Linked DNA regions of Homo sapiens. The protein of the gene in region 3 interacts with the protein of the main gene of each other region in a pairwise test. Each region holds a gene or a part of one and is shown on either strand. Other genes may lie near its edges.

What was found.
Region 1: the proteins of CHN1 (region 3) and CDK5R2 interact in a two-hybrid assay, tested with the Homo sapiens proteins (one study listed by IntAct).
Region 2: the proteins of CHN1 (region 3) and HEMK1 interact in binary tests that used the Homo sapiens proteins (3 or more experiments, as listed by UniProt).
Region 4: the proteins of CHN1 (region 3) and ANKK1 interact in binary tests that used the Homo sapiens proteins (3 or more experiments, as listed by UniProt).

What each region holds. Positions count from the first base shown.
Region 1 is NC_000002.12:218,954,685-218,963,413, forward strand, and holds CDK5R2 (cyclin-dependent kinase 5 activator 2), read left to right. Parts: upstream 1-4,981; 5' UTR 4,982-5,136; coding exon 5,137-6,240; 3' UTR 6,241-7,471; downstream 7,472-8,729. UniProt on the Homo sapiens protein: Activator of CDK5/TPKII.
Region 2 is NC_000003.12:50,592,891-50,597,437, forward strand, and holds the end of HEMK1 (MTRF1L release factor glutamine methyltransferase), read left to right. Parts: 3' UTR 1-3,276; downstream 3,277-4,547. UniProt on the Homo sapiens protein: N5-glutamine methyltransferase responsible for the methylation of the glutamine residue in the universally conserved GGQ motif of the mitochondrial translation release factors MTRF1, MTRF1L, MRPL58/ICT1 and MTRFR.
Region 3 is NC_000002.12:175,001,792-175,010,469, reverse strand, and holds the start of CHN1 (N-chimaerin), read left to right. Parts: upstream 1-5,088; 5' UTR 5,089-5,557; coding exon 5,558-5,576; intron 5,577-8,678. UniProt on the Homo sapiens protein: GTPase-activating protein for p21-rac and a phorbol ester receptor. Involved in the assembly of neuronal locomotor circuits as a direct effector of EPHA4 in axon guidance.
Region 4 is NC_000011.10:113,382,009-113,391,302, forward strand, and holds the start of ANKK1 (ankyrin repeat and protein kinase domain-containing protein 1), read left to right. Parts: upstream 1-5,770; 5' UTR 5,771-5,876; coding exon 5,877-6,061; intron 6,062-6,067; exon of another isoform or gene 6,068-8,381; intron 8,382-9,294.

The DNA.
Region 1 (8,729 bases), about 44 Mb from region 3:
AGATAAGAAAGGCCTTCATGGTGGTGAATACAGTCTGGGGACTGAGTACCATGCAGGGGTTGCTGGGGGCAGATGAAAGAAGAGGGCCTGGGGGCAGAGAGGAGAGGGCTGTGTTCCACTCTAGGGAGCATCTGAGCTAGAGTTCTCGAAGGCCCTTCTTTCCCCGCAGAGCCTCCAGTGAGGTTTGCACACCTTCCTGGGGCTATGCCTGATAGGCAGAGGAAACCTTCCATCTAGGGCACAAGGGTGGGAAGGCTGGACTCTCAGAGGGTCTGTGTTCATCGATGAAATCAATATAGAGGAGGAAGGGACAGGATAAGGGATATGGAACCAGATGAAGACCCAGTCACAGTGGCAGTTTCTGGCAGCCACCTGCCTGGTTGAGATGGAAACGCTGATTCCAGCTCCAGCCCCCAGACAGGCTAAGAATATCCCAGAAAAGCAACAGCTACCACCCCCACCCTTCTTGATCTGCTCCTACATCTGTAGTGCTATGCTGGGCGCCAGCGGGGCCTGGGAGGAGAAGGAGTGGGGGACGAAAGGGAGGAGGCAAAAAGGGGGCTTGGTGGAGGCAGAAGGTGAACCAAGACTTAAAGCTTCTGGTGAGTGCTGGGAGGACTGGACAGAGAGAGCTGTTCTCAGGGGACAGTAAAGGAGGTGAAGGCAGGAGCCAGGGAGTTGGAGGGAGATCAGGACAGAGGATGGGAAAGGAAGAAATGGCCCCCCTTCCATCAAGGAAAGCAGCAGAGCTTAAGGCAGGGAAAAGGAGTCACCAGCTCACCCCTGTCTTCTCTGTCCCCTTCACCCTGGGCCCTCCAGCATCTCAGCATTGGTCCCTTCTCTCCCCACCCCAGAGCATCACATTCCTCATCTGTGCTCCCAGCCCTATTCACTGTTCAAAAGAAACTATATTTGGGCTCCTTAATTAAGTCCTTCTAGCAAACAGCCTGCGAAATGGGAAGACATGAGAATTTGGGTCTCCCTCCTGACAGCTAGCAGCACCTCCTCTGTCAATTCCTCTCTTCTCTCTGCTTACCCCCTCCCCCCTCCACTGTTATCTGTAGAGGGGTTCTGCTCCCCTCCTTTGTTTTAGCCACCCACTTCTCCCCTGGGGTAAGGTCCTCAGGAGAGGGAGAGAAGTCTGGGCTCGTGCATACCCACCCCCTCTGCACACCTCAGGAGCTGAGACTGATGGGCAAGGGAGTTGGGGGTGCCAGGGTGGGGGGGGGGGCAGCAGGATCCAGGCACTCAGATGCCCAGGCTGGGTCTCCATCCTGGCTGTTTTAAGAACCTGTGTCATCATTAGCCTCCTTGTAGGGGCCCCTACAGGGAGGTGCAATGACCTTGGTTTCTGGGGCCTTTGATGTTTACTGGGGATATCCTGGGCCTCAGCCATCTTGCCCTCCTCTTCTTTGCCTTCTCACCTTTCAGGGGCCCCTCTAAAGCTTGGAGGGACCTAGGGAGATTTACATTGCTGAGAGCCTAAGCTCCCCTCCCCTTCATCTCCTGGGGTGAACCGCAGAAGTGCAGGCCTCACATGGATGCTGTGCACACAAAGACTGAGCCCATCAGACAGAAACAGATTAGGGAGAAGCAGACAGGGCTGGAGCTGGAGAGTGAAACAGATTCACAGGACAGATTTTGTTTAGAATCAGAACTGTGGAGTTGAAAGAGGCTTTAGGAATCCTCCTCTAGTCCAATTCCTAAAATGTTATCTTGTTCTTTTAATATTCATTTTTATCTGATAATAAGAGTCAAATCCGTAGAACCCTTGCATTTTAATATGATGAAACCGAGTCCCAGAGAGCTGAAATTACTTCCCCAAGGTCATACAACTGGCAGCCATAGACTAGGACTCCCGTGTCCTGCCTCCCAGACTATGGCTTCTCAGAAGGGAGATAAGAAGAGCAAAAGGGAGGCAAAGTGTGAGCAGCATTGTCCGGAGATGTTCTCTTAAAAGATGGGGCCCACCTGCCCAGGTTGGGTGAGTGAGAGGAGCATCTCTGGTGAATCTGATGGGATGCACTCATCAATAAGGCCAGATCCTATCCAGGCTAAAACCTCAGTCTAGGCCCTCCAGTTCTTGGTCTGGGCCTAGAGTATTTGCCTTAAAGAACCTTCAGGAATAACCAGTAATCTGAATAGGCACTGTTCTAGGTAACCTACAGAGCAATGAAGACAGACAAGGAGACTGGCCTCAGGGGCTTTCCCATCTAAGGAAGTCTGACACAACCAGCACTGCCCCAGAGGAACATAAGGGAGATGGAGAGATGAGAAGCAACACAGAGATACTATTATAATGAAGATAGATGAATCTCAGAATATGAACCCAAACATAACCTAACCAGAAGAGTACACTTGCAAATGTGGGAAAGCCACCAACCTTCTATGAAGCCCACCTCCTCCATGAAGTCTTTCTGGTTTCACTAGGCTTATTCCCCTTGGGCTCCCCCTGCAGAAACATAATAACCCTCCCTCTCAGCTCTCAATGCCACCGGCTTATATACAACAGCAATGTTGTTACTCTTTCTGGATCTCTTTGATTAGCTTGTCTGCTTGTCTTTAAAATTCCATCCATATCCATCTTGCACATCTTAGACCCAGAGCCCAGCCCTTAACCAAGTTGTTATGTAGCCACTGTTGCTGATGGGAAAAGGCTGGAAAGGCTGAAGTCAGAAAGAGTATTAGGTCCCTTCCAATCTATCAAAAAAGCTTCTTGGAGGAGGTGGGAGTTCAAGAGCTTGACATTCTGAGAGAGGGTTCTGGCCCAGTGGAAGGAGCTCAGAGATTCTGGAGAGATAACCAGAGCAGGAGGGTGGGGAGCATGTGAGCCAGAAACAGGGTTGGAGGCAGAGCAAGGTGGAAAGTGAGGAAGGGGAGTAGGACCCTCTGAGGCACCTGCTTTGGGGTCCCTGAAGCAGAGGAGGAAATTCTTGGTTCTGACCAAGAGGACAATAGGAGGTCAGAGCTGGGCCGGGAATAGGGTACCACAGTGGTGACACTCTGTGGGTGCTGCTTAGAAGACGTGGTCCTAAATGACCTTAACAATAGGCCTTATGCCAGTGAGGGACTCCTGGGAGCAGCGCTGGAAGGACTCATGTGCCATTTAGATCCACATGCCCAGTGTTTCCGCCAGTGCAACTCAGTCTCTACAGGGCTTGTCCTTAACTACCGGTGAACTGACTATTCCTTGGTTGGCAGATAAAGAGTGACTCAGAACACCTTGTAGGAGGAAGTGGGGCCAATTACAGGAGCTGAAAAGAGGGAACACTTTCAAGAACTATGAGGAGAATGAGTTTGGGAAGGTCAGCTTGGGCTGCAAGAAAATAAAGATCAGATCCTAGGGAGCAGAGATACCCTGTTGAAAAAGTGCATATTGGGTGCTGAGTTAGGGAGAAGGTACAAGGCTGCATGTGCACAGTGGTAAAGAGGAGGGGAATGGAGACAGGCAGACCACAGGCCTCCAGGAGGGTGTGAGTGACCAGGGGCTGTGGAATGGCTGGGAAATTCTGTACCTCTGGTAGCTGGAACTGCAGCCCAAGTGGATTCTAGAACAGCCTATCTGCAGTGACACACACACACACATATATGCACAAACCAACCCTGACAGCAGTGGATCCTTGGAGCTATGTTTGCGGTCTGTGAGGAGCATGGAGGTGACTCCAAGGGCAATCCTTAGAATTTACTGAAATACATAGGCAGGGGTTTGGCTCCACATGGAACCCATATGCACCTACAAGGTCCACTTACTTAAGAAGCCTGAAGGCTCTTGTGCTGGGGGAGCCACAGAGAGCAGGCTCCAAGAAGGGTGGACATGATCTAACAAGGCAGATAGAATAGGTCCAGAACTAGCTGTGCTCAAGACCTGCAGGTAAGGCCTGGGGAGTCCAAAATCCAGGGCAAAGGGCTGATGGGTACTCAGGAGGTAACAGACAGACCCAGAGAGAAGTGGACAGGACCCAGCCTAACAGCTTGCTCCTGGGAGTGGGGACAGCTGGAACCTTACCTGCAGGAAGCATTTAATGATGAAACCCACCTCAACCTGGACCCAGGGCTGGGCTGGAGGTTGGTCCAACCCTCTTGGGCTTCCGTCCACACAGGAGGCTCCGTTCACTATCCAAGACTGGGTAGACCAAGTGATCCAATTTCTAGCGTTTCCCCAGGGACCAACCTTATCCATCATCCACCCAAGTATGAGATCTGTGTGTGTTAGTGGGGACAACCAACCGAGAGGAGCTGCCCAGGGACCAGAGCCAAGGGTCTGCCCCACAGGCTCAGTTGCAGAGAATCAGGACGGCAAGCAGAAGCCTCAGGGGCATATTTGAGACCTTGCTGCTCCCCCTCTCCCCCTCAAGCTGGAACCCCCAAGAAGGCGGGTTGTGACCTGCAAGAAGGCTCTGCCAGGACTCCCAAACAGGCAGGGCAGAAATGTGCCTGCTGCAGCCCCCCTAGCGACCTGGGGGGTGGGGGGCGAGGTGGGGTCGCGAAGAGGAAACAGACCTGACAGTCACATTGGAGGAGCCAGTGCAACGCGACCCATCTGGGACCTGGGCATCCGGTGAGGGCACTCACTGCTCACACTGGCCCCCCACACAAATTCAAAGGCAGAGGGAAGGAGAGCTGTTCCCATGGTTTATCTGCTACCGCGACCCAGTGCATCAGAACAAGCTGGTCCAGGCCCTAGGATCCGGAGGAGGCAGGAGCAGCCACCACCCCTTCTCAACTCTGACCCTGAGGAGGCCACTCGAACGACGACCACCGCCTTCCCCTTCCTCCGCTCGGGGGAAGGGAAAAGACTCAGGGCGGAGGGTGGGGATTGGGGCGGGACTTGAAATTGAAGTGCGAGAGTCTATTGGTCATTGGAGCTGCCCATCAGGAGTGCAACTCGGGAGCGGATTGGCCGCGTGAGGCGGGGCACGGCGCGACGAAAAAAGGGGCCCAAGGGGTGGGGCTGACGCTGCAGCTGGCGCAGCTCAGGATTAGAGCAGCGGAGCCGCCTAGCAGCCACCTTCCCCCGCCAGTCCGCGCGCCCGGGCCGGGGCTAGGCCCCCCACCGCCGGGTCCCCCGGGGCTGCAGTAGCAGCGGCGCCGCCCGCGGCTCCCGCTGGGGCCTGGGCGCCGGCCCCGCTCTGCAGGATGGGCACAGTGCTGTCTCTTTCGCCTGCCTCCTCGGCCAAGGGCCGGAGGCCCGGCGGGCTGCCCGAGGAGAAGAAGAAGGCGCCGCCCGCGGGGGACGAGGCGCTGGGGGGCTACGGGGCGCCGCCAGTGGGCAAGGGCGGCAAAGGCGAGAGCCGACTCAAGCGGCCGTCCGTGCTCATCTCGGCGCTCACCTGGAAGCGCCTGGTGGCCGCGTCCGCCAAGAAGAAGAAAGGCAGCAAGAAGGTGACACCCAAGCCGGCATCCACGGGCCCCGACCCCCTGGTCCAGCAACGCAACCGCGAGAACCTTCTCCGCAAGGGCCGGGATCCCCCCGACGGCGGCGGCACCGCCAAGCCCCTGGCGGTGCCAGTGCCCACCGTGCCCGCGGCTGCCGCCACCTGCGAGCCACCGTCGGGGGGCAGCGCGGCCGCTCAGCCGCCGGGCTCGGGCGGGGGAAAGCCTCCGCCGCCGCCTCCCCCAGCCCCGCAGGTGGCGCCGCCGGTGCCTGGCGGCTCGCCGCGGCGGGTCATCGTGCAGGCGTCCACCGGCGAGCTGCTGCGCTGTCTGGGCGACTTCGTGTGCCGACGCTGCTATCGCCTCAAGGAGCTGAGCCCGGGCGAGCTGGTGGGCTGGTTCCGCGGTGTGGACCGCTCGCTGCTGCTGCAGGGCTGGCAAGACCAGGCCTTCATTACGCCTGCAAACCTGGTGTTCGTGTACCTGCTGTGCCGCGAGTCGCTGCGTGGGGACGAGCTGGCGTCGGCCGCCGAGCTGCAGGCCGCCTTCCTCACCTGCCTCTACCTCGCCTACTCCTACATGGGCAACGAGATCTCCTACCCACTCAAGCCCTTCCTCGTGGAGCCCGACAAGGAGCGCTTCTGGCAGCGCTGCCTGCGCCTCATCCAGCGGCTCAGCCCGCAGATGCTGCGGCTCAACGCCGACCCCCACTTCTTCACGCAGGTCTTTCAAGACCTCAAGAACGAGGGCGAGGCCGCCGCCAGCGGCGGGGGCCCACCGAGCGGGGGCGCGCCCGCCGCCTCCTCGGCCGCCAGGGACAGCTGCGCGGCCGGAACCAAGCACTGGACTATGAACCTGGACCGCTAGGGATACCCAGGGGCCGCGCCCATCCCCCGCCCCAGCCCCTGACACACACTCGGACCCCCCGGGACCACAAAGCCACCGCCGCTGTTACCGCCGCTCAGCGCCCCGGCTGGGCGGAGGAGGAGACGCCCATGCCCCTCAGGGGAAAGTGGAGACCGGGACACCAGAGGCCGCGGTGTTTGGATTTGCTGGGCGTGGAGTGGGGACGGAAGATGAGCGCGGGAAAGGCACTCCAACCTCACTCTTCCCGTCTGTCTGCGCCCCCATTTCTCCATTTCTGCCGGGGTCTCCCCCTTCCCTTCAGCCCATTCCCCCTCGGTTTTATCCATTTCCTTGCCTCCTTTTTGTGTCTTCATTTTTCCTCCTGTCTGCATTCCTCTCTCTCTCTCTCCCTCTCTCTCCTGTTCCTCTCTTTCTTCCTCCCTCTCCCTGCCTTTCCATTTTCCGTTCCTTGGGTTTGTGTGTCTGCATCTCCATCTTACCCCTTGCCTGACTGTACCCCGTAGACCCCTGTTTCTCCTCCTGCACCTGTGTCCCCATCTGCCCTTCTTGTTGCTCCTGTCATGTGTCACCATCTTCCCTCCTGTCTGCCTTCTTCCTCCACTTGTGTCAGCTTGCATTTTTTTATTCCTGACTGAGTCACCACACCCCTCTCCCCTGATCAAAGGGAATATTAGTTTTTAATTTGGATCGACTGAGGTGCCAGGAGAAACTGCAGTCCCAGGTATCCAGACAGCCACCAGGATGGTCCCTCGCCCCACCCCCACCGCCTCTCCCCACCTTTTCCAACGTGTTGCATGCTGGGAGCTGGGGGGTGTGGGGGAAGGGGCTGCCGGCTTCTTTCAGGAGGCTGAGGTTTGGAGGCAAAATCAACCTGGGAGACCACCCCGGCCGCGGCGCCTCAGTGGACAGGTGGGAGGAAAAGAAAACTTCTTACCTTGGAGGAGGGACATCCCGCTTCCTTATCCTTAGCTTTTTTGTTGCTCCTCCCCACTGCCCCTTTTAATTTATTTGGTTGTTTGCGGAGGGAGGGGGGAGGGGGGTAGGCTGGGCCGGGAACTGTCCGAGGTGCTGAGCTGGGGCGGGACCGGAATCCTCCCGGTAGGGTACCAGGGACTGAGTTGGGCCTGGGGCCGTGTCCAAGGTGCCAATGATGCGGGCCGACAGAGCGGGCCGCACTGTCTGTCTGTCCGTCTGTCCCGGAAAGAACTATAAAGCGCTGGAAGCGCCTGCAGATGGTTTTGCGCCGGTCTTTCTTTGGGCCCCGGGAGGGAGGGAGTGGGAGTGGTAATGGAACTGTCACAGACAGAGCAGAAAGGCAAGAGATGGGGCTCTAGTAGGGGAGATCAAGTACCTGAGAACTTCTCCTCCTCCCCATCCCCACCCCCGCCATCGGCTTCCATTTTACAGAGAGTAAAGAGTAAAGCGAGGCAGCTGAGGGTGAGGCCTGGTGATAAAGCTGAATCCATCCCCCCACTTCCGCCTCCATCTTGTCTGACCTAGCTCCTCATTAATGCCCGGGCCACTTAGAGACCGAATCATGGGGACAGCGGAGTTGTGCCCTTTCTGTGATGAGACCCATTGAGGCAGAACTAGCTAGTCCTTATTGCTATTTTTCCCTTCCTCCCCATCTCTCCCCACCATATATCGGTCAAGAGTACAGTCGGGCCTAAGTCTGTGTTCACCACTCCCAAGTGGGGCCTGTCTGCCATACTTCTCTCCTCATCCCCCAACCACCATGGGGCTGCTTCGACGATGCCCAGGTCGCACGCCCACTCAGGAGTCTTGGGGGGTCCATCCCTGCTTGAGACTCAGACCCTTGCCCTTTATCCCCAAGAAGGGGCAAACAAGGGCAGTTGGGGAGAAGGAAGCCATTCTCTGGGATTGAAACAGGAAGGAAAATGCGCTATTTAGCCTGAGATCCCTGCTCGGTCCCCATTGCCTTCTTAGCCACGTGGCTAAGCGCCCTGTTCACTGTTTCATTGGCCCAAAGAGGCCTGGCTTCAACAGAGTGCCCGCGGCTCCGACCCTAGTCTGGCCGTGGCCGAGAAGATCCGGAAAGAACCCGGGGGGACCTGCCAAGACGAGGCCCGGGTTCGCTGTCCGTGGTGCTGAATGGCGCGCTCGGGCGGGGTCGGGGCTTGTAAGGGCAGGAAGAGTTGCAGACTCGGCCTCAACTAGGTCTTCCGGATAATTTGGGAATAGGGTGTCATCTATTCTGGCGGCGAGTTATAGAAGTCTGGCTCCAGAACCCAAAAATGTCGGTCCCCACTTGCCCTCCCGGGACGACAGGACTCGATTCCCCTGGCCTCAGCCCAGCGCCCTTGTAACCTGCCTGGAGCCGGAAATCCCCAGTCCAGATTTGTGAATTGAGTTCCCGGAGGGAGGGGGAGAGCTGGCGGAAGGGAAGGCGGGAGCAGCCGCCCATTGGCTGGAATTTGGCGCAGTCAGCGCGGTGCCGTCATCTCTCTTGGTTTGGGAGGAGGGAGGGA
Region 2 (4,547 bases), on a different chromosome or scaffold from region 3:
CTTTTATTTACTCCTCTGTACCCTGAGCACCATCAACTGGGTGCCAGGCCTGTGCCTATATTTGGCAGGGTGAGGGGTGGGGGCCAGACAAATTGTAGAGGAGCCTCAGGTCTTTGGGGTGTTGCCCCTCCACTACATGGCCCCAGACCAAGTTCTCTGCCAGTTTGCAGAGCTCTTCCCTTCCACTTGGTCTTGAGGAGGGGCCAGAGAGGCTGCCTTTACCCCATGAGCTCTGAACCCTCTCACTATCTGGCTGTCCCCTCATTCTCTCACCACCCACTCCCACTCCCGATGGGAGCCTCAGGCCTGGCTTAGGAACCCTGCCCACAGCTGTACTAATGCCCTTGGCTTTGCTATAGGGAAAGAACACAGCCACTCCACACTCTGGGACAGCCAGCTTGCGTCCATCCCCTAGTGCAGAGGGCTAGTTTAGGGAAGGACATTAGGACCCTGACTGTGCACCTGACTCAGGGGCCCCGGAGAAGATTTGGTGGGCTAAGGGTGGGCAGGAGAATACAACTCACAGCCAAGCGGAAGGTGGCTTTCAGCTCCCCCCTTCTCATTTTTTCTTACTGTGGCTGCACCAGGGCTGTGCCCCTCATGGAAGGTTCACTTTCCTGCTTATCTAGTCTCAGATGTTACAGTTTTTCTTGTTATGTATTATACAGAGAGATGGCCTAACTGGTTCTTGCTGCTGCATGGGCAAGCCATTAATTTACAGGGGTTTATCTTATAACTGGACACCTTTTTGTTTTCTCTTACAAGATGTGCTTGTTGTTGCTTCTCTTGGATTTTCTACATTGACATTTTACCACTGAAAATAATGACAATGACAAATTTGTCTTTTCCTTTCTTTCTTTTTTTTTTTTTTGAGACAAAGTGCCACTCTGTTGCCCAGACTGGAGTGCAGTGGCGCGATCTCCCAGGTTCAAGCGATTCTCTTGGCTCAGCCTCCCGAGTAGCTGGGATTACAGGCGTCCACCACCATGCCAGGCTAATTTTTTTTTTGTATTTTCAGTAGAGACGGGGTTTTGCCATGTTGGCCAGGCTGGTCTCGAACTCCTGACCTCAAGTGATCTGCCACCTCGGCCTCCCAAAATGCTGGGATTACAGGCCTGAGCCACCACACCCGGCCTGTCTTTTCCTTTTTAATACTTATGGCTCTTATTTATTTTCCTTGTTTAATAGCTTGGCTGAGACCTTCAATACAATATTGAAAAACTGTAACGACTAGAGCATTTGTATATTGTTTCTCACTTGGGGTGCCTCTGGTCCCTCCCTGTCAAGTGCACTTGCTATTGATTTTGGATAGATGGCCCTTTTCTACTTAAAAATGGTTCAGTCTAGTTCTGGCTGACTCTGATTTTTTGTTTATTTTAGAGGCTTTTTTTTTCATCTTTCATTCATGCAACAGACCTTCAGTGAGCTGATTGCCAGGACTACACTGTCATACTGTGGTACCAAAGAAAAATTGACACGGTCCCTACTCATAAGGAGTTCATGGCCTGGTGGAGGATACAGGCAGGCAAATAGATCCTTATCCTTAGGCCATGGGGCATGCATTCAGTCACCATCTGCTGGCACTGTGCCAGGCACAAGGAATGGGCACTATTCAGGCAGGCCCCCATCACAGTCTGGTGGGGTCCAAGCAGTTCACATCCCCTCTCACTCAAGTTCCCACAGAGTAGTTGCAATGGTGAGCTGAGGTTTTCTCTGCTGCAGAGGCCAGGTGGGTAAGTAACCAAAAGTGCCTGAGAGCTAATCCCCTGGAGCAGCCTGAAACCAAGGAAGACAGAGAGTTGGTAGACACATGCCCAGCTCCCTCACCCCTTGGGTGGGACAACCGTGGCTTGTGTTTTCTGCCAGCTCCCAACTGAAGACTGAGCCTCAGTTGCCTACAGAAGGAACCCACTCATAAACCCACCTACCTCCTTTGGCTTCCTTTCCTTCCCTGTCTCACCCCCTCTCCCATTTTATATCAATAAGTGTGAAGGCTGAGATTTTATCCGACTTTCTTTTTTTTTTTTTGAGACAGAGTCTCATTCTGTTGCCAGGCTGGAGTGCAGTGGCGTGATCTTGGCTTACTGCAACCTCTGCCTCCCAGGTTCAAACGATTCTCCTGCCTCAGGCTCCCGAGTACTGGGACTACAGGTGCGCACCACCACACCCAGCTATTTTGTATTTTTAGTAGAAACAGGGTTTCACCATGTTGGCCAGGATGGTCTCAATCTCTTGACCTCATGGTCTGCCCACCTCGGCCTCCCAAAGTGCTGGGATTACAGGAGTGAGCCACCGCGCCCGGCTTATCCGACTTTGAAGCAAACAAGTTAGTCTATCATAGTCTATCATATTCTCAAGGATCATGGCAGAAGGCACAGAACTCTGGGTTCAGAAACAGACAACAGATTATTGTTTACAGTAACGGCAGTAGACAGAGTAAAAGCATTTTCTTGCACCACTTCCCTGAACCGCAGTTCCTACAGAGTGATGTGATGATGGCCCGGTGATGCCTGCATATGCATTGGGTTGCACTACGGTGGAGAAACTGCATGCTGAATTTAGGGGACCCACGTCTTTTATAATAAGCTGCAAGCAAACCTGCCCAGGTGGGAGATGTTATCTTTAGTATACGGGACAATAAAATCTGCCTTTTGCTCTGGAGGGAGATACTACCTCTATCTTCTAAGGTTACTCACTATAATAATCACCCTTGTAAAGATTATTTAGAACAAGGGCAACCAGTGCCTCTACTGGCAAGTGTGCAGAAATAGGAGAGAACCATGGGGAATTGTCTCTCAATACCTTACTGGTGCTTCTTGGCATTACTTCCCAAATAATCTATTTGCATTTGGATGCTTGTCTCAGAGTGGTTTCTGCAGGAAAAAACCCAAGATAGAGAGACAACACTATATAGGCATCGATGTATTTCTGGGGTGACTCTCTTTCCTCCAGACCTCTCCTGCAAACAACGCAGGGGAGCCACGCAAAGGAAGAGGTTTCCACACCTGGGATTGATACTGCTGGGACTCCAGGGCAGGTGCTCTAAAGGACTCTTAGAATTTCATTTTTAATGTTTAATATTTGGTCCATCTAGAATTTATGGTGGAAGGTGTGAGGTAGACGTTGCACTTTTTTTTCCTTCCAAATTGCTCCAATATCACTTACTGGAAATTGTGCTTTGTCTGTTACCACTCTCTTCTAATCTGCCTGTGGCCTGTTCCTTAGAGTGTATCACAAACATACAAGTGATCAATTTCCAATAAATTGATTAAAGAATTCATGTGCATTCCCATTTTGTCAAACCACTGATTTGACACTCAGTGCTGATGCAGTGTGAGACAAACCCAAACACCCACTGTCATGATAGCACCGTTCAGGTTCTAGGGCAATGCATGGAGGTTGTGCTTTTGCTAACTGCAGAGCAAACACTACTTCAGCCTTCACAGAGAATTTAACTGTGAATAGTGAAGATTTCTTTTCTTCTCTCTGTTTCTTTTTGAGAAGAGTTTTGCTCTGTCACCCAGGCTGGAGTGTAGTGGCACAATCATGGCTCACTGCAGCCTCGAAATCCTGGGCTTAAGTGATCCTTTGGCCTCAGCCTCCCAAGTAGCTGAACTACAGACATGCACTGCCATGTGTGGCTAATTTTTAAAATATTTTTTGTAGAGAAAGGGTCTCACTATGTTGCCCAGATTGGTCTCAAACTCATGGACTCAAGCGATCCTCCCACTTTGGCCTCCCAAAGTGCTGGGATTACAAGTGTGAGCCACCACACTCTGCTAAGATTTCTTTTCATAAAAACATTTAGCAATATTTAATAACAATTTCAAAAAGTTAAGTAAAATTTTAGTTTTAAATCTTAATTTAAATTTTAATACAAGTATAACTTATAGTTTGTTTTGCCTCAATTTTACTAAGTGATTTTGATTATTTTAAAAATAACTTTTTAGGCTGGGTGTGGTGGCTAACGCCTGTAATCTCAGCACTTTGGGAGGCTGAAATGGGTGGATCGCTTGAGCTCAGGAGTTCAAGACCAGCCTGAGCAATGTGGTGAAACCCTATCTCTATAAAAAATACAAAAATTAGCCAGGTGTGCTGGTGGGTGCCTGTCGTCCCAGCTACTTGGGGAGGCCGAGGTGGGAGGATCCCTTGAGCCCAGGAGTTTGAGGTGTCACTGAGCTATGATCACACCACTGCGCTCTAGCCTGGGTGACACAGCAAGACCCCCCCGCCAAAAAAAATAATTAAAATTAAGGCCAGGCACAGTGGCTTACATCTGAAGTCCCAGCGCATTGAGAAGCTGAGGCAGGAGAATCCCTTGAGCCCAGGAGTTTGAGAGTAGCCTGGGAAACATGGCAAAACTCCATCTGTACAAAAAATACAAAAAAATTAGTGGAGTGTGGTGGCACACATCTGTAGTACCAGCTACTTGGGAGGCTAAGGTGGGAGGATCACTTAAGCCCAGGAGGTCAAGGCTACAGAGAGCCAAGATTACACCACTGCACTTCAGCCTGGGCAAAAGAGTGAGACCCTGTCTCAAAAAATAA
Region 3 (8,678 bases):
TTCAATTCCAATTTCCCCTCCCTTCACACCCACACACACACACACACACACACACACACACAGCTTCTACAAACACATTTTCTTTTTACTTCGGAAGTGATATAATAAGAGCTGAGCAGTGTTTCCTCAGTAATAATCCAATTCCTAATCTGCGCCTAGCCAGATGATAGCCACCTCTCATTTTAGCATATTTTTGGTGACTATCTTCTGCTACTATAGCAAGCACTGTGTAGGGGAACTGAGAAAGTTTTAAATTCTTAAGGTTTCTTATGTATTTCTCAAATTGAGTTTTACTTCATTTCTAAGGCCCAATATTACTATTATAATTTAGGCACCCTCTGGTGGTGAACAGAACACAAATAATTCTCCTAAACATTGAGTTATTTAAGCTTAACGGGCAATTTTACAGTTTATGACATAAATATTATTTTTGTCATAAATAGTGTTATGGTCTAAATCCTTATGTTTGAGGCAAGTGCTGCCTTAGTTACTTGTGTGCATATGTCTTTGTCCTGTGAAAGTGCTATTTGTAAATCATGGAATGCCACACAAATATCAGGTAAGTTATTAATTCAGAAAGTCTGAGATAAAAAACAAGAAGGGGGGTAAAAAATAATCGGAATTAAGTGTTTAAGGAAAACGTTGTTAAAAACAAACCAAATAGTCTAGGCGCGGTGGCTCATGCCTGTAATCCCAGCACTTTGGGAGGCCAAGGCAGGTGGATCACTTGAGGTCAGGAGTTCAAGACCAGCCTGGTCAACATGGTGAAACCAATTTCTACTAAAAAATACAAAAAGTTAACCAGGTGTGGTGGCTCATGCCTGTAATCCCAGCTACTCAGGAGGCTGAGGCAGGAGAATCACTTGAACCTGGGAGGCAGAGATTGCAGTCAGCTCTGAGATTACTGCACTCCAGCCTGGGTGACACAGTGAAACTCCGTCTAAAAAAAAAAAAACAAAAAACCAAACAGACCAAATAGCTGGATACAGTGGCTCATGCCTGCAATCACAGCACTTTGGGGAGGCTGAGAGGAGTGGATTGCTTGAGCTCAGGAGTTCCAGACCAGCCTGGGCAACATGGCAAACCCTGTCTCTACTAAAAATACAAAAATTAGCCGAGTGTGGTGGCATGCACCTGTGGTTCCAGCTACTCCAGAGGCTGGGGTAGGAGGATTGCTAGAGCCCACGAACTCAAGGCTGCAGGGAGCTGAGATTGTGCCACTGCATTCCAGCCTGGGTGACAGAGTGAGACCCTGTCTCAAAACAAAAACAAATCCACTTTAAACAAATTCACACAGTGGAAACAAACACTGTAACTAGTAACATAAATATGGGATAGAGAGAATGTCACATATTGTGAATATTTAAATAATTTTAACTTTCTTAATTTTAACTTTAGCAGAAGTATACTGTGTAACATTTTTCTCTTCACTAGCAAACTTCTGCACTATTTTGGGAACTGTGCTAATAGCACTGGTATTCCTAGTGTTTAAAGCTGTGTTGACATGACAAAGTACTATAATTTTAACTTGTTATTGTGAGGCAGAAACCGCCTCATTAATTTCTGCTTCATTGAAAACTGAGGAACAAATCAATGTTTACCAATGGGAATGAAGCTAAATGGGTAACAAAAAGAAATTCAAAACACTTGTGATAAGTCATTAGTTTAAAATGTAGGAAAACCATTTTAAAGGGTTGTCTAGGTTCTGTTTAGTCAACAAAACTTAAATAAAAATGAGAAATTGTTTTAGTAAATTTGAAATGGGTTGTTCAGTGCACACTTTTAATTTTAATCCTGTTAAACCAGAAAAAGGTTGCTTTCTACATGATTAATATAACATTATTAGTACAACACATTGCAGAAGAAATAGCAGTACCACTGGTTTGACAAAATATGACTTCTTTATTACATTAGGTATTTATGAACTTTAGATATAACAGCACTTTAAATATATTGAAGATTCAAATAAAAATGTCCTCTGTTTTATCCATAAACCAGTTAATTTAAAGATTTTAAAATATCACACAATGACAGATAAACCTAAAAGGGACATTAGAGATACCTTAGTACCATCCTTTCATTTTACAAAGGAGGAAGATAAGAACTAGAAACAGTAAAACATTTGTCTAAAAATCTGACAGCTAGTTAGTAACGAATAAACAAATCTGGCTCTTCTAAGCACTTGCATGTTAAGCACAAAATGAAATCATTGAATGAAAACATAAATATTTTGAGAAGTCAATTCATTCTTTGCCCTTCTTTTATAAACAATCTAAGTCACCACCCGTAATAATCACCTCCAAGCAGTTAACGCCCTTCCTTGCATTGACTCTGTAGCTGAAAGGCTGTGGCTTTATTTTCAGCTAAGTGAGAAAAGAAGCACATGCAATAGAATAGGAATAGCTCATTGAAAAAAATACGCTATTTTAAAAGCCAATACTATTTCCAAGACAGGCACTTTGATCAAGTATAGAGAGCATTTTGTTAGAGCATCAAACCATTTGGAAGTCAGTTGAAAGGAATGGCTCGTGGAAAGCAGGATGCTTTAAAGGGAAACATAGCAACATTCACACTGTTTTGTTCCAAATTGTACCTTAAAAACAGCTGTGTGTGTGTGTGTGTACGTGGGTGTGCGAGTAGAAAGGGGAGAGGAAAAGGATCTTCACTTGAGTTTAAGCAGGGTATTTCACTAGGATTCAGTTGTATTTGGCCAAACTAGTGAGTGGAAAGCTGGTCTAGTAACCAAAGGCCGGCTGTATGATGGGAGGGTAAATCTGAGTGCAGGGCAGCTCCTTTCTCTCTGTCTCACTCCCAGGACAACCCCTCAAGGGATGGAGAGAGCTACTAGCAAGCTGAGCTGCAGCACCAAAACCTTGATGCTCTAACAGAGCTTAACAAAGAGGAGAGAAAGGCATTGTTTCTCTTTTAGCATGATGGGACACATAGTTCTGAGTAGAAGGGCATGTTAATAAAAACTCTTTGAGACAAAATGCAACTTCCCAAACTCTATGCAGAATGGCTAAGGACAAAATACTCTCGTTATTTTGCTTCTAATACTAAACAGATTTTTCTTTTGAAATTCAAACCATGCAACCTCTAAATTGATGCGGGATGTGGGTAGGGAAGGTGGTCGGTGAGAACACCAGAAATCTAAGATTTTCCCATTGGTTCTGCTACTAAATAGGTGAACACATTTGGGAAAATCTTTTTACGGGGAACTCAATTTTTTTACCTATAAATCATGGGAGTTTTGGTCTTTTCCTATTCAAAATTCAATGGTTCTATTCTGAAGGAAAATATTTTCCTTTAAATTATAAAGGCAAAAACTTTCTGAGATTACAAAAAACACTTCCAGGGGCTCACCTAAGGTCCCTGAATAGCCCATAATCCCCTTGAAATTATGTGAAAAATTTCCGGTGAATGTGTGTATGTATGCAAGCACTTTTCTAAGAGGAGGGACAGTATTTTCATTAGAGCCTCAAAAGGAAATTTGGTCCAAAAATGTTGAAGACCACTAGTTGAAACAGTAAATGGAGTCTTCGGTTTCTGATTTATTTGGCTGCAGAGCAGATTAGCAGCAATCTTTATATGGTTATAAAATCTATCCCACAAAGCTTTCTTGAGTTTCTCATTTATTTTCATGAGCTGTGTGTTTGTAATTTTTTATGAGCAGAAAGGTTGTTCAAAATCAAGAGTCCATTTTCATGAAAGATTTTAAATTCTGGGGATTTTAAAGATGTATTTTGATTAGTGGCTAAAGAGAGCCATTTTACATCACAAAATTCCAAACATATAGCATCTTAAACACTTGCCCATTCATGTTGAATCATTTTAATATTTCTTTCTTCCTGAGTTAACTGACTTGAAACAAAAGGCTTGGCTCCTCCTTCCAACCTGCTTTTCTTCTGATGCTTAAGTCTGCTTTGAAATAATGATGGTGAATTAACTGTGGTTCCATTGGAAGTACTGTAGTAATCTCCCACTTTATCAGGATTCGATCTCTAAGATACATTAAATACAAGATATTTCTATAATATTCTTAAAGAATTATTTGAAAATGGGAGAGAAGACACTAGGGAACCTGAGGAACTAAGAGGAAAGACGCCTGTAGAAAGAAAGGAGAACCAAAGAGAAGATCTACATGATCAGATACCAAAATAGTATCAAATCCCTAAGCAGAGAAACAAGAAAAAAGAAGGAATTTCTTAAACAGGGAACACATATAGCAACTAGAGAAGAATGACTTTTTGAATACATTAAACGACAACGACGAAAAACATATAACCCAGCTTTTCAAGAACATCTTTTGGCTGACAATCTCAAGGCGTTGTATGGCTCCTCATGGCAGAGACAGAGGTGAGGAGACAACATCACAGAAAGGAGGACGTTGCCAGTGATTATCAGATAAATACAAGAAGCTCAGGGGAACAATCTTTTGTGGCAAATAAGTGCCAGTCAGTGACACATGCTGATTTTTTTTTCCTTGAGACAATATCAAAGAGGTATAATGTAAAGGGAAGAAAATCAGGTGTAAGCATTGGTCTTTTAACAAATTATCTTAGGTAATCTCAGATGCTTTTTAAGCGACTCCTTTTCCTAATGTGTGTCAATTTCATCAGAACTACTAGCAGCTCCTAAGTCCAAACGGAGAGGAATGCAGCTTTCAGTGCCTCTGTTCCTACCAGAGCCCTGCAGCTTCAGGTCACCGGCTCCAGCCACAGTGAGCCTGGAGGGCGCCAGGAGAAGAAATATGTTCTCACACGCACCAGGTCCCCAGATGACCCTGCCTGGGCGCTGCGTTCACTCAGCATCCTCCTGTGACTCTTCCTCTTTCGAGTAACAGCGTTTTTCTCCTCTCTGCGCCTCCTCAAATTCCATTCAAGAAAAAACCTGGGCTTTCAGCTAAAACGCACACCGGCCCCGCTCCATCCCGCTCCGGGCGGCCGCCTCCAGGGGGGCGCTGGTGGCTCCTCGCAGCCGCGGGAATGAGGGCGCACCCTCTTACCCCCGCGCGCGCCCGTTGCCATGGGAACGCACTCGACCGGGAAGCCCGAGGGAGAGGCGGGAGGCAGCGGCGCGGCCGAGCTCGTGGGAGACGCTATCGCAAGATGGCGTCTGCGAGGCCGCGGGATGCGGAGTGAGCGCGCCCCGCCGGGGGCTGTGCGAGGCTGCTGCTGCTCTCCCCGTCGCCGCCGCCGCCGCCGCCAGTGCGGCGCCGCCTCTCCGCCAGCCACTGCGCCGCGGCCAAGCCTCCTGCCTCGCAGGTACCTCCTCCCGCGCGCACGCTCCGCGCCTGATGGCAGCGACAAGTGCCGGCTCGCGGAGAGCTAGCGGGGCTCCCTGGGCCCGGTGCGCCCGACAATAACGCGTGAATAACTTTTTCTTGCAGCGGTCCCCCGCGTCCCGGCCTGCAGCCTCCCCGGGCGCCGGCGCCCCCAGCACGCCCCATCGGGCACCCCACTCTCTCCGAGGTGTGGGTGCGGCGGGCTGATGAGGTGATCCCTAGCCCGCCTGGGAGGAGCGCCTGGACTCGCGGGCGGCGGCGAGCGCCTTTACAATGGCCCTGACCCTGTTTGGTAAGTGCAGCCGTCTCCCCGCGCCGCCGCAGGTGGGCCGCGTCCCGGGGCTCGGGGGCGGGGGCCTGGGGGGCCTGGGCGCCCGGGGAGGGGGCGCGGCGCGTGGGGTCGGGGCGGGCCGGGGCCGCAGAGTTGGGGCGCCCGGGGCGCCGGCTTGCTCCCTCGCGCCTCTCCCATTGTTTCCTCTCCCGGCAGGGCCGATGGGCGTGTGCTCCCCTGGCCAATTCTCGGCTGGGAGGCTCAGAGGTCCTGGGTGTTTTGCAAACGCACAAAGATTCTCTAAGATGCCAACTTGGGAGTGAAGTTAACTGGTTGTTTTCAAACCTGCCTTTCCCGTCGGTAAATAAATCCTTGGAAAGTTTATTTATTTTGAACGAGGTATCTGTGAGTCCCCAGCCTCCTTGGAATTGCCAAATGCATGTGTTGCTTCCTGTTGGACTATTGGGGAATTTTTTTTTTGGACTCAGTATATTCCGTTGGAAATAAGTATGATTTGTGAACTGAATATGGGTTAAAATTGAAAATGTTTGCACTAACGAATGAGAGCAGACAGAATAAAGTTGGTTACCAGAAGATAACTGTAATCTCAGGAGACTGAGTATTCATTAAGAATGAAATGTTATTTTTGTGGTGTAATTACTGCAGCACTGTTGCTTTTGGTGGTTAAGACTTCAAGCTGTTTTTTTCTCAGTCTGCAATGACAATGGGTTGGGAAAAAGGACTGAAAAGATACATTCTTTCCTTTTACAAAACGACTATGGTACATACGTACCTGACTTTAAGAAAACTCAATATGTGAACATTAGACGTTCAAAGTATTCAGCTTTTTTGAAGAAGCAAAGTACAATGATATGTAATTGATAGCTACGAGAACAGCCTAAGTAAGTTATTCACAATATCAAGTTTCCAGTTCAGTTTTAATTATGTCATTTGATCAAACACGTTAGAGGTGTTACATACCTCAAATGCTTTTTGAGGTAAATACTTCCCAGTGAATTAAGCTGCTAGAATCAAAGTGTTACTTTTATTTAACTATCTTATTTTATAAATTAAACTTAGACCCAGAGAGGTTGTTTCCCAAAGTCACATGGCTCTTTTGTGGCAAAACTGAGCCTAGAATTCACTTCACCAGGCTTCAGTCTGGGACTGTGTTTACTGTGCCCAAGTGCATTACTAGAAGTGCCATTTCTTACTTGGTGATGATCCTCCATAGGTACTTTAAAAAAGTGTCTTCTTTTTCTGAAAAATAATAAAATTCTCGCTGTTTCTCAGTACCTTGTATCTAAGCATTATTTAATAGCAGCATTTTCCTTAAATGTGGACCTTTTTGGTACAAACATTTTCTTTCCTAAAGAGATATTTGGCATTTTCAAGGTGTGGTTTCAGAAGTAAGGTTTACAAGTCAACTTTTCAAATACTCGCATTCCTGACGAATAAAAAAGATAAATTGGGGTGAAAAATGCTCTTTTAAAAGGATTTCTAAATTCTAAATCTTTAACCACTGTGGTGAAGATGAGGAAGGGAAAAGCATGGAATGTGGCCTATAGAAGAAAGTATAAGAAATCACTCCCAGCCTTCAAAATGAATAATGTATCTTTAAAATTTTAAAGTCTACTTATGGGAAAATAGAATTCACTTCCCAAAATCCAGTTTGTTACAGTGTGAACGTTTCTGTGTTATAAAACAAAGCACTCTTGAGTGCAGAGGCTATTTGTTAAGTAGTGATAGAGCAGCAGCTGTTTTTAAAAGTGGTTGTACACCACTCATCAGTCATCTGGGATGTCTATTAAAAATGTAGATTCTTTTGCCCAAAGACATGGGGGAAGGGGATTTTAAAGTGACTCCCTTTGTGATTCTTATGCTCACTCAAGTTTGAGAACTGTTGTATTCAAGATAAATGCTAGGAGATTGGGTCAAACTCGCCCAATACAAAATAGCTTTTTGTGTATGTTGAGAGATGTACCTAAGGGTTAGAAGAAATGGATTTTATTTTAGATTTTACTACCTTTAACTAGTTGGTCTTAGTCAGAAGTGCCTCATGTCCCTTCATATTTACTCTTAATGACCAACTTAGAACAGAAGAGCAATGGAGCAATAAAGTTCTGTGAGATGGTAGTGAAAAGAGTTAGAGGCAGGGACCTAACCAGATCAACAGGATTTGTCAGAGCTCAGCAGAGTTTATACCTGAGGCTCCCCAGAGTAACGACTGCCAGGGCCCTATCTTTTGTATCTTGGTTGATTAGTTAGTGCAGTCCAGCAGTAGAGTCTAGACTAGTTATTTGCTTTGTGTTTTACATTTTCTTTCCATTCAGGCTTTTTATAAATTTAAGAAATGTTCTTTTTATAGGGAGTTGGTGACTTAGTTTTAAAAAGTGGAGCCTCTAACATTACCTGATTTTGTATTTGCATACATTTAATTTTTTTCACCTGTTAAGTATATTATAGGAACTCGAATACTTGTTAAATTAAGCTGAATAGTTAAGACTGTTTTATCTCTCATCCTCACTGTTAATCACCTTTGCTGCTTAACATATTTTTAATGCATATTAGTTTTATTTTGGGATAGAAGAACCAGACCCCAATCTTGAAAGATTTTACAGTCTCATTTGGGAATTGAAAATGTGCATTTTTGAAAGCTTAAGAATTTGCACCCGTTTTTCTTCTCCTTTCAAATGAACTCACATCTCATTATCAGCTTCGATATAGTTTTTAAATCCCCCAATTTCAAAAATTATCCAAATGTATTACAGACTCTGCTCGCTCACCTTGCTCATTTTTTCAGCAAACATCTGTCACAGCGTACAAGAGACATGGTCCTCTAGTGGCACTTCAGAGTCTTTTCTAGAACTATAGCGAATGCACCTAATTCACTAATTACCTAATTCCGTATAGTGAGTGGCACTTAACTATTAACTAATTCCGTATAGGCTTTGTGAGAACTTCCTTAGTAGAGAGCACATGTTTTCTAGTAATTACTGGGATAAAAGGAAAGTCTCAGATCCTTGAATATGGGAATTTGTGGCTGGTGTACCTGACAAAATGTCCTGATTGGCCACACCAATAGAGCCTTAGTTGGCAGAGCTGGGTGAATAAGCATTCTGC
Region 4 (9,294 bases), on a different chromosome or scaffold from region 3:
CCTTCCCTAGTCCTAGCTTTCCTTCACTCCCCCCTATCCAGGAAGGGCCCAGAGGAGAGCAGAAGGATAGATTTATGGCCAGATCACCAAGGTTGACATAAGGAGGGCATTTTCCCTTTAGAGTCCTGGTAATAGGGACTCAATCTCCCTGGACTGACTCTTTGTTAAATTAAAAAGGGTTAAGTTTAGCATTCCTAGTCTCTTGGACACTGCCAGAGAAGGTATTGACCATGACATCTTGGGCATGCTCTGAGGCTGTTAAGGCCCCATGTTGGAATGATGTTTCTCTGAAGCCCTGGCCACAGCCAAGCATTTCTTCTAAACTGCTTGAGATGGCAGGATGCTTGAGACATCTGTTTGTTATTTTTATATGGACCCAGCCCAGAATCACAATCACCCAAGACCATAAAGAACCTGTGGCCATGATTTTGACAATGAGAACCATGGTTCATGAAACTCAGGGCTTCCATTTTTGGCTTCTTGACACTCAAGGTAGTTTTTCATCAAAAAGCCCTTCAAAAGAGAGACTGGTTTCCTTATTAGGAAGGAAAATCTATACTCTGCCAACTCCAGAAATTGAGTCTTAGAAGGAACTAGTTCGCTCCCTCTCTCCATCGTCTCCAGCCTCAGACATTTAACACAGTGGCCTTTCTCTTTCTCCTTGGGGTTTCTACGTGTCCACAGGGGGCCAGCTGTGTTCCTTAAGGCATTCTGTGGTAAATGTTAGATTACTGCCTTTCTCCTATTATGGGAATATTTTCCTTCCAAGAATATAACATTACCTAGTAATAAGGACAAGAACGAGAAATAGAAGGGGGAAGGAGAAGTAGGAGGAGGAAAAGGAGGAGGAGGAAAAGGAGGAGGAGGAAGAAGAGAAGAAGGGGGCTTTATTTGTATTTTTTAAATGTTCTGCTTGGAGATAATTACAGATAAGCACACAATTTTAAGAACTTATGCAGAGATACCCTCACCCAGTTTCCCCCAAAGGTAACATCTTATGTCACTATAGCACAACATTACAACCAGGAAATCAGTGATACAATCCATAGTCCTTACACAGGTGCCGTCAGTTTTACATGCACTCATTTGTGTGTGTGTGTGCATCTGTGTGTGCATTTAATTTGATGGAATTTTGTCACATGCATTGATTCATGTGGCCACCACCACAGTTAAGATACAGAATAGTTTCATCACAAGGTTCCTTTGCACTAACCTTTTACAGCTACACCCACCTGCCTCTCCCCCAATCTCACCTCTGACAACCACTAATCTGTTCTCCATCTCTATAATTTTGTCATTTTAAGAATGCAATATAAATGGAGTCATACAGTATGTAACCTTTTATGATTGGCTTTGTTCACTCAATAGAATTCTCTGGGGCCTCATCCAAGTGGCTGTGTATATCAGTAGTTGCTGAGTCCTATTCCATAATACAGCACTATGGTGTGTTTAGCCATTCATTGGTTGAAGGACATCTGAGCGGTTTCCAGATTTTAGCTATTGCAAATAAAGCTGCAATGAGCATTCATATACAGATTTTTGTGTGAACACTGTTTTCATTTCTCTGGGATAGATTCCCAAGAGTGCAATTGCTGGGTTGTATGGTAATCATATGTTTAGTCTTATAAGAAATGGCCAAATTCTTTTCTAGAATTGCCATACCATTTTACATTTCCACCAGCGTATGAGTGATCCCATTACTCTACATCCTCATCAGCATTTGGCGTTGCCACTATCTTTTCAGTTTTATTTTTAGCCATTCTGATAGGTAGTTAGTGATATCTTACTTGCATTGCTTAGTGGCTCATGATATTAAACATTTTTTCAAGAACTTATTTGTCATCTGTATATTCTCTTCAGAGAAATGTATTTTCCCATTTTCTAATTTGATGCTTTTTTAGCATTGAGTTTGAAGACCTCCTTATATACTCTATGAACCAGCACTTTGTCAAATATGTGCTTTACAAACATTTTCTCCCCATCTGCACTCTTCTCTTCACCTTCACCAGGTCTTTCACTGAGTGAGAGTTTTTCATTTTGATGAGGTTCAGTTTATCAATTTTCCCTTTTATGGATTGTGCCTGTGGGATTCGGCCTAAGAACTTTTCATCTAATCCTAGGTCCAGAATATTTTCTCCTTTTTTTTTCCTAAAATTTTTATAAGTTTACATTTAATATTTAAGTCCATGATTCATTTTGAGTTAATTTTTCAGGTGTGAAGTATCAGCTGGTTCATATTTTTTGCCTAGGAGTATTCCTAGTATATACCTAAGGAATGTAACCTTTAAAAATATACCTAGTATTTAGATATATTTTATGGATGATAATCATAATAACCATTCCAAAAGGTTGCTGTAAGAATTATAACCTTTAAAAATATCCTAGGTATATTAAACTAATATGATATTATATTGTATTTTTATGTTATATTAGTATAATATTATACTAATATACTAGGTATATTTTTAAAGGTTATAATTCTTATAGCAATGTTTTGGAATGGTTATTATGATTATCATCTATTTTACAGATGGAGAAACCCAGAAAGATTTGATAATGTGACCAAGGTTAAACAAATGCTAAGTGATAGAAAGAAGCCAGGGTTTAAATGCGGGTCTGACTGACTGACTCACTCCCACATTTAAACCCTGTTCCTATTGCCTCATTCAATCCCTTTCACTCTGGGAGTCCTGCTTCCTGAACAGATGTTCCACTTTCCTGCATACATTCCTTTATCCTGACCAACCTCAGTACACAAGCTACCAGAGGCTGGGGCCTGCCAGAACCTGTCCAGGGTTCTCCGTGACATGTTTGCAGGGTGGAGAACAGGGGCAGACTGGGAAACTTCCCTATATGCAAATAGCTTGTCATTCCGGTTTGGGGAAAGGCTCACATCAGATTTCAGCATCTTCTAAAGTATTGCAGAGCTCCTGTACCAGCTCACTTGTCTGGGAGGAGCAGGCTAAAAATCTTAGGTTCCCCAAAGACAATCACACATACACACAAAATTCATTTAATAACTCCAAATCCAGAACACTTCCATCTTCAATCTGCCCAAACAAAATGCACTGATAGAGGTTAGTTGGAAGGACTCAGAGCATTTTGGGGTAAAACTTCTATAGCTAGAACCTGTTCCTTGCCCCTTCTGGTGGGTGGGGGTCATAATTGGACTATAACCACTTCATTATCCATTCCCATTTGTAGGTAGATATGGGTAAAGGTAGAGTTTCCCTCCCAACCCCCCAGCTCTCTCCCCTCCACACACTGGCTGCTGACTTCCCAACCAGCCAGGACCTAGGGACTTCTGCACTCAGACCACTGGAAAGAAACCAGCAGCCTCTGAGTTGACTTTACTCTTTTGCAAATCCCTATACCTCACCCCACTTTTAATGAGAGATCCAGGAGTTCTTTGCCTCTGTGACCTTATACTCAGAAAGGGTCCCTCCACTTACAACTTCTCCCAGAGCTTATCCAAAGACTACTAGGCCTTTGCCCTAGCCCATGTTAGACAGCTGTAAGGAGCAGGACAAGCCCAGTCAAATGATCCAGTCCCTCTGGGTCAATGAATGTATCTATTTTGACTGACTCCTCAGAAGCCTCAGGGGTGCTTGAACCCACAGCAGAGAGTTTCAACAGGTGGGTCAGCAGTAATACGCCCTGACCCTGCAGTTCCTCCACCTCCACCCCTGTGAGAAATTCAGAGGTATTTTGTTCGGGATTCTGGCAACATGCCTTGAGCCCTGGGTGTCCCCTCTTCTAGGAATGATGCTTTCTTCAGTATTCCTGTGACAGTCTCTGCAGGCAGACAATGGCAGCTTCTGGTTACTTCCTCTCCCTGGAGAGCCACTTCAGGTATAAGTGGATCAAGGGGAACTGCTGAAATGACTCAGGCCATTCACCCTTGGTATTTCCTCCAGGAGCTGAGATAGGTCTCGCTGAATGTCAAAGATCGGGCCTCAGTCAAACTTCCGCAGAGCTGGGTGGCTGGTCACCTTCCCAGTCTCCATGTTCACCCTCCCAGTAGAAGGTATGAAACATCCTCTTGACCTCCTGGTCTCCCTGATGACAATGTCCTTTATCACCTTCCAAACTTCTCTGGCAGAGGCTTTAAACTTGGGCAGGCAGGGCTACTCCAGAGACAATGGGTTCTGTTATGCCCTGTCTTGCTCCAGCCAAAGCAAGCTGGGGGCCTCCCTCTGACATATGTTTGGGGGATACGTCCTGCTCCTGATGCAGTTTCCATCATCTCCACCCTCTTCCAGGGAGCATGACTCTCTCTCTTCCTTTTTTGTATTCATAAAAGGCTACTCCCTGATCCTCCCCTGGCCAACCATTTCCATAGAAACTAAGAGACTTGAGTTTGAATATCAACTACCACTTACTAGCTATGTGTCCATTGATTACTTATTGTCTTGAAGCCAGTTTCCTCATCTGTGAATAGAAGATGTTGACCTCATAACATTGTTGCAAGATAAACAGGATAATATATGTAAAGCAATGCAGTAACTGAAATAGTCACTGATCCTGGAACAAAGTGAGTGTTCAATTAGTAGTGGCTATCACTAGTTTCTATGACAACTGTCTCCAGGCCCAATCTTTGATCCTTAATCTGCTTGCCAGAATTCATCCTGGAAGTTGCAGGTAAGTTGTTACAGAGGGAGCAAGTTCTCCAGCTTCCACAGGGAGTCTCTGTTTGCCTATCATGCCTACACTGTTCCCTGGGAGTCTGGTGGGCTTGTGGCATGGACGAGGGGCTCTGCAGGTTTGGGCTGAAGGCAAGGCACTTCCTTGTCTGGTAGGTAGGCTCCTCAAACCTAACAGTGATCACTCTGAGGGCTCCTTGTGGACTTACTCAGCTGTAGGCAAATAGTGGCTGACTCTGCACTCCGTGGCCACAGTTCCTCCAGGTATGCCTGTCTCTGGGCAATGGCCCACTTGGTCAGTGCCCCTGGGGAGACCTGTCTGTTCAAGCACTTGTCATTTTCCCTGCTCTGAGGGTCTCCAAGGTGAGAGGGCAATCCCATGGACCCAGGACCCAGGGGAACCTCCAAGCTCAGCACTGGTCAGGCTCCAGCTAGAGCCTCCTCTCATCCCTGGCAACAAACTGCCCCTAGTAACTGCGCCAAGGAGGCCACCTCCCCCGTGGCCACCCCGAGGCTGGGGTCCATCCCTCTGAGGTTGGATAGAGCGCAGCCCAGGAAGGGAGTCCCCTGCAGACAGGAGCCCAGCCTCCCCCGCAACTCTGTCCCTGCTGACCCCTCCTTGGTAACCTATAGCACACCAAGGCTGGCTAACAAACAAACAAACAAAACCCCAACAAGAACAAAGGAAACATGAAACCAGTCAGACCAACAGATTCAGACCAGAAAATCCCCATTAAAATTGTTTGAGCCCCATACTTGCTGGATAGGGGCAGGGGTCCAGGCCTGAATCCTTCATAAACCATAAAACCTTGAATGCACTGAAGGAATGCATAAACCGATTTCACTTAGCGCTGGGCCTAAATAAACTGGATCCAACTTCTCAGGCTGGACTTCTTCCAGCTTCGGGACACCTTCTCCCAGCATCCCTCCCTAGGGGGAACTGGGGAAAATCAAAGGCTGAGACAGGGGAAATGCGAGGGCTTCGGAGGGACATACCCTCTTCCCCAGGCCCAGGTCGCTCCATCCCTGCTGGGGCCTCAGGGCTCATGTCTGGGATTTCCCCACCTTTGCGGGGCAGGAGCGGCTCCTCTTGGGCGGGGAAGGAGGCAGGGCCGGCTCGTCTCCCCATTCCCCTCTCCCGGACCCGAGGAGCAGGAAGCGGCGGCTCCTTCGGCCACCCAGGCAGCAGCCACAGCGGGGAGTGCGCGGCGCGGGGACAGGAAGAGAGGGGCAATGGCTGCCGACCCCACCGAGCTGCGGCTGGGCAGCCTCCCCGTCTTCACCCGCGACGACTTCGAGGGCGACTGGCGCCTAGTGGCCAGCGGCGGCTTCAGCCAGGTGTTCCAGGCGCGGCACAGGCGCTGGCGGACGGAGTACGCCATCAAGTGCGCCCCCTGCCTTCCACCCGACGCCGCCAGGTACTGCCAGCCTCGCCCTCCCCTTTCTCGGAGGAGAAACTGAGGCCCGGCAAGCTTTGGGCCCAGGGAGCTTGCGAGGAAGGAGTGGGCTGAGTTTGGGGCTGAGGACTGTCCCCCGCGGTATTTCTGAATTCCACCCAGTAGCCTGAGCCTCCCAGGCACACCCATACCTGTCTCCCTAACCAAAATAGAGTTGGCACATAATACCTGTTTGTAGACTCAACAGAGGTCAAAGGCAAGCGGGAACTACCTACCAAAGACGCCTTTATCCCATCTGACCTTCCGAACTTGTCCTGCCTGCTTCCATCCTTCTCTCCAGCGCCTTCTTCCCCCGGTGTCCTGTGGCAATAACTGCTCTTGACCGCTCTCTGCCATCCTCCTACCCACCCCAGCTCTCAGGGCAGGGCTGAGCATCCTGGGAGGCTGTGGCACTTTGCTCAGATCTGCAGGGAATCATGTTCTCTCTTCCCACGGTGGCGGGAGGGAGGAGGCCCCTCCCAATCAGTGCAGGCTGAGGAGGTCAGGGGATGGAGACTGCCCGGCCTGATGGCCTGTCCAGGCCCTTGGAGGGTCAAGTCTGGAGTTCTCTCATCTCTGTTTTTGTTTTTGTCCCTTGCTGTCATGCGCACTACAGCGACGCCTTGACATGCCCCTATTTTTCTCTTCCTACCTCTTTCCTACGTTTCCATTATTCTCTGTCTTCCCACTGATTTGGAATCCAGTCTCATTCCCACTGGAGTTGCATATACTAGCTGTGTGCTTGCACCTTGCAGCCATGAAGAAGACACTCGGGATGTTAAACCTGAGCATGATAACCATGTCCTCCTCCCAAGGCTCTGGGACATCAATTAGAGAGTCCGGGACGGGGGTCTCTCTGACTGGCATCTGGCTTGGATGCTATCTGTGGTTCTCTAGGATTACCATGCAAACTCTTAAGATACAGCCTCAGGTGCCACACACTCAGTTCCCAGGCCTTCCCCCACCTTATGAGGAGAGGAAAAATAAGATCGCCTAAGGCCCACTCACCTTCCTCCCTCAACATCTGCCTGTTGGTTTTGGAGGAGGGTCAGAGTATGCTAGGATTTGTCTAAATCATTTATAGCCTTTTGAATATAGAACGAAAGGAAACAGATGGCAGTGACATGATTACACTGTGAGACATTGATGCTAACTCCTGCCACTTTCCCTTCCCAAGTTCTGGGAATTCCCTGGGTGGAGGGGGTAAGATAATTAATGGTAATTAAGACTTAGTATGTATGGATTACTATACTAGGAGCTTTACGTGCATTACTTTACTAGATCCTCTTTCCAGCTATTCATTCATTCATCCACTTGACAAATGCTTACTGCTCTTCTACTATGTGTCAGGCACTGTTCTACACCCTGGGATTAACGATGAATGCAACAGATGTGTCCTTTCTCTCCGGGAGATTGCAGCCTAGGGGGAGGAAGACATTAACCAGATAACCCCACATGTAAATGTAAATGTGCTACTGTGAGAAGCTTAAGAAGGGGAGATTTGTGGCTCTAGGAGAGCTCATTAACAGAAAGTTTGACTGATATCAGAAAAGGCTTCCTTGAAGAAGTTACACTACAGCTGAAATGTGAAGAATGAGTATAAGTTAAGTAGGTGAGGAGGAGAAAGTTTTCCAAGAACAGACAACAGAGTGTGCAAAGAATCTGTGGCAAGAGGGGCATGGTAAGTACAAAGATGGGAAAAGGCCATGATGGCTGGAGTTGGGAGAGTAAAAGAGCAGTGGAAAACCACTGAGCATTTACAACCAGGTAGCGGTGGTGACCATGGGAGGGATTAATCAGAATTGCAGTATGGAGAATGCATTGGGAGGGGTAGAGTGGATTCTGGTTAAGTTAGGAGATTGTTATCTTCATTCTGATGAGAGACGGATAATAGGGGCTAGAGTGGAGTGTTGGTAGTGGAGATAGGAAAGGAATGGGTCAAGCCATATTTAGAAGGTAAAAATCCACCCGACTTGGTGCTGGATTAGTCATGGGGAGGATCACGATGAGGAAGAGGGGTATTAAAGCTAACTTGATGTCTGGCTTGCCCAAAGGAATGGAGGATCCACTAAAATGTCCACTCCATGAGAGTGTCTGTTTTGGTCACAGCTCTGTCTCCTGTGCCTGGCACAGAGTTGGTGTTCAATAAATATTTATTGAATGGCAGTGTTGACAATTAATGGAGAGACTATGAAAAGAGGCCTAGACTTGGAGAGGAAGATCATGAGTTCAGCTTTGTACCTGTTGAGTTTCAGATGCCTTTAAACAACCAAGAAGAGTTGTCATGGACATCAGAGTAAAGGTTGGTGCTAACAATATTAAAACTTGGGAGTCATTTGTTATAAGTGGTCATTAAAACTAGGGCATCAGGCTGGGCCTGGTGGCTCACGCTTGTAATCCCAGCACTTTGAGAGGCCAAGGCTGGTGGATCACCTGAGGTCAGGCAAGACCAGCCTGACCAATATGGTGAAACTCCATCTCTACTAAAAATACATAAATTAGCTGGGCGTGGTGGTGGGCACCTGTAGTCCCAGCTACTCAGGAGGTTGAGATAGGAGAATTGCTTGAACCCAGGAGGCAGAGGTTGCAGTGAGCCAAGATCATGCCATTGCACTCCAGCCTGGGCAACAAAAGTGAGACTTGGTCTCAAAAAAAAAAAAAAACAAAGCAAAAAAAAGGCATGGAGGAGATGCATTCATTCCAAGCACTACGTGAAAAAAACAAAGTCCTTGCCCTCATGAAGCTTATAGTCTAAAGGAGGAAGACAAAATAAATAGCAAATGAATAATAAACTTTTTAGCTATAGCACTCATGACCACCTGACAGTTCTTGATTAAAATATCTAAGAAGGGTTGAGAAGTCTGATTTTCCAAGAAATGGGTTGGTCTAAAAATATTAATGCCAGGGCCCTCTGTGTATGGGGAATATAAGAGTTGGAATGGGGTTGCTTTTTTATGTAGACTTCTCTGTGAAATCCATACTAATTAGGTACCATTTGAGTAGAGATTTGAAGGAAATGAAGGGGTAATCCATGTGGCTCTGTTAGGGAGGAGTGTTCTAGGCAGAGAGAACAACAGGTGCAAAGGTCCTGAGGTGGGACCACACTGGGCATGGTGGAGGAACAGTGGGAAGCCCGTGTGCCAGGGGCACAATGAGAGGAGGGTGATTAGGAAAGGAGGTCAGCAAGCTATGCCTGGCATTGGGGACAAATCTTG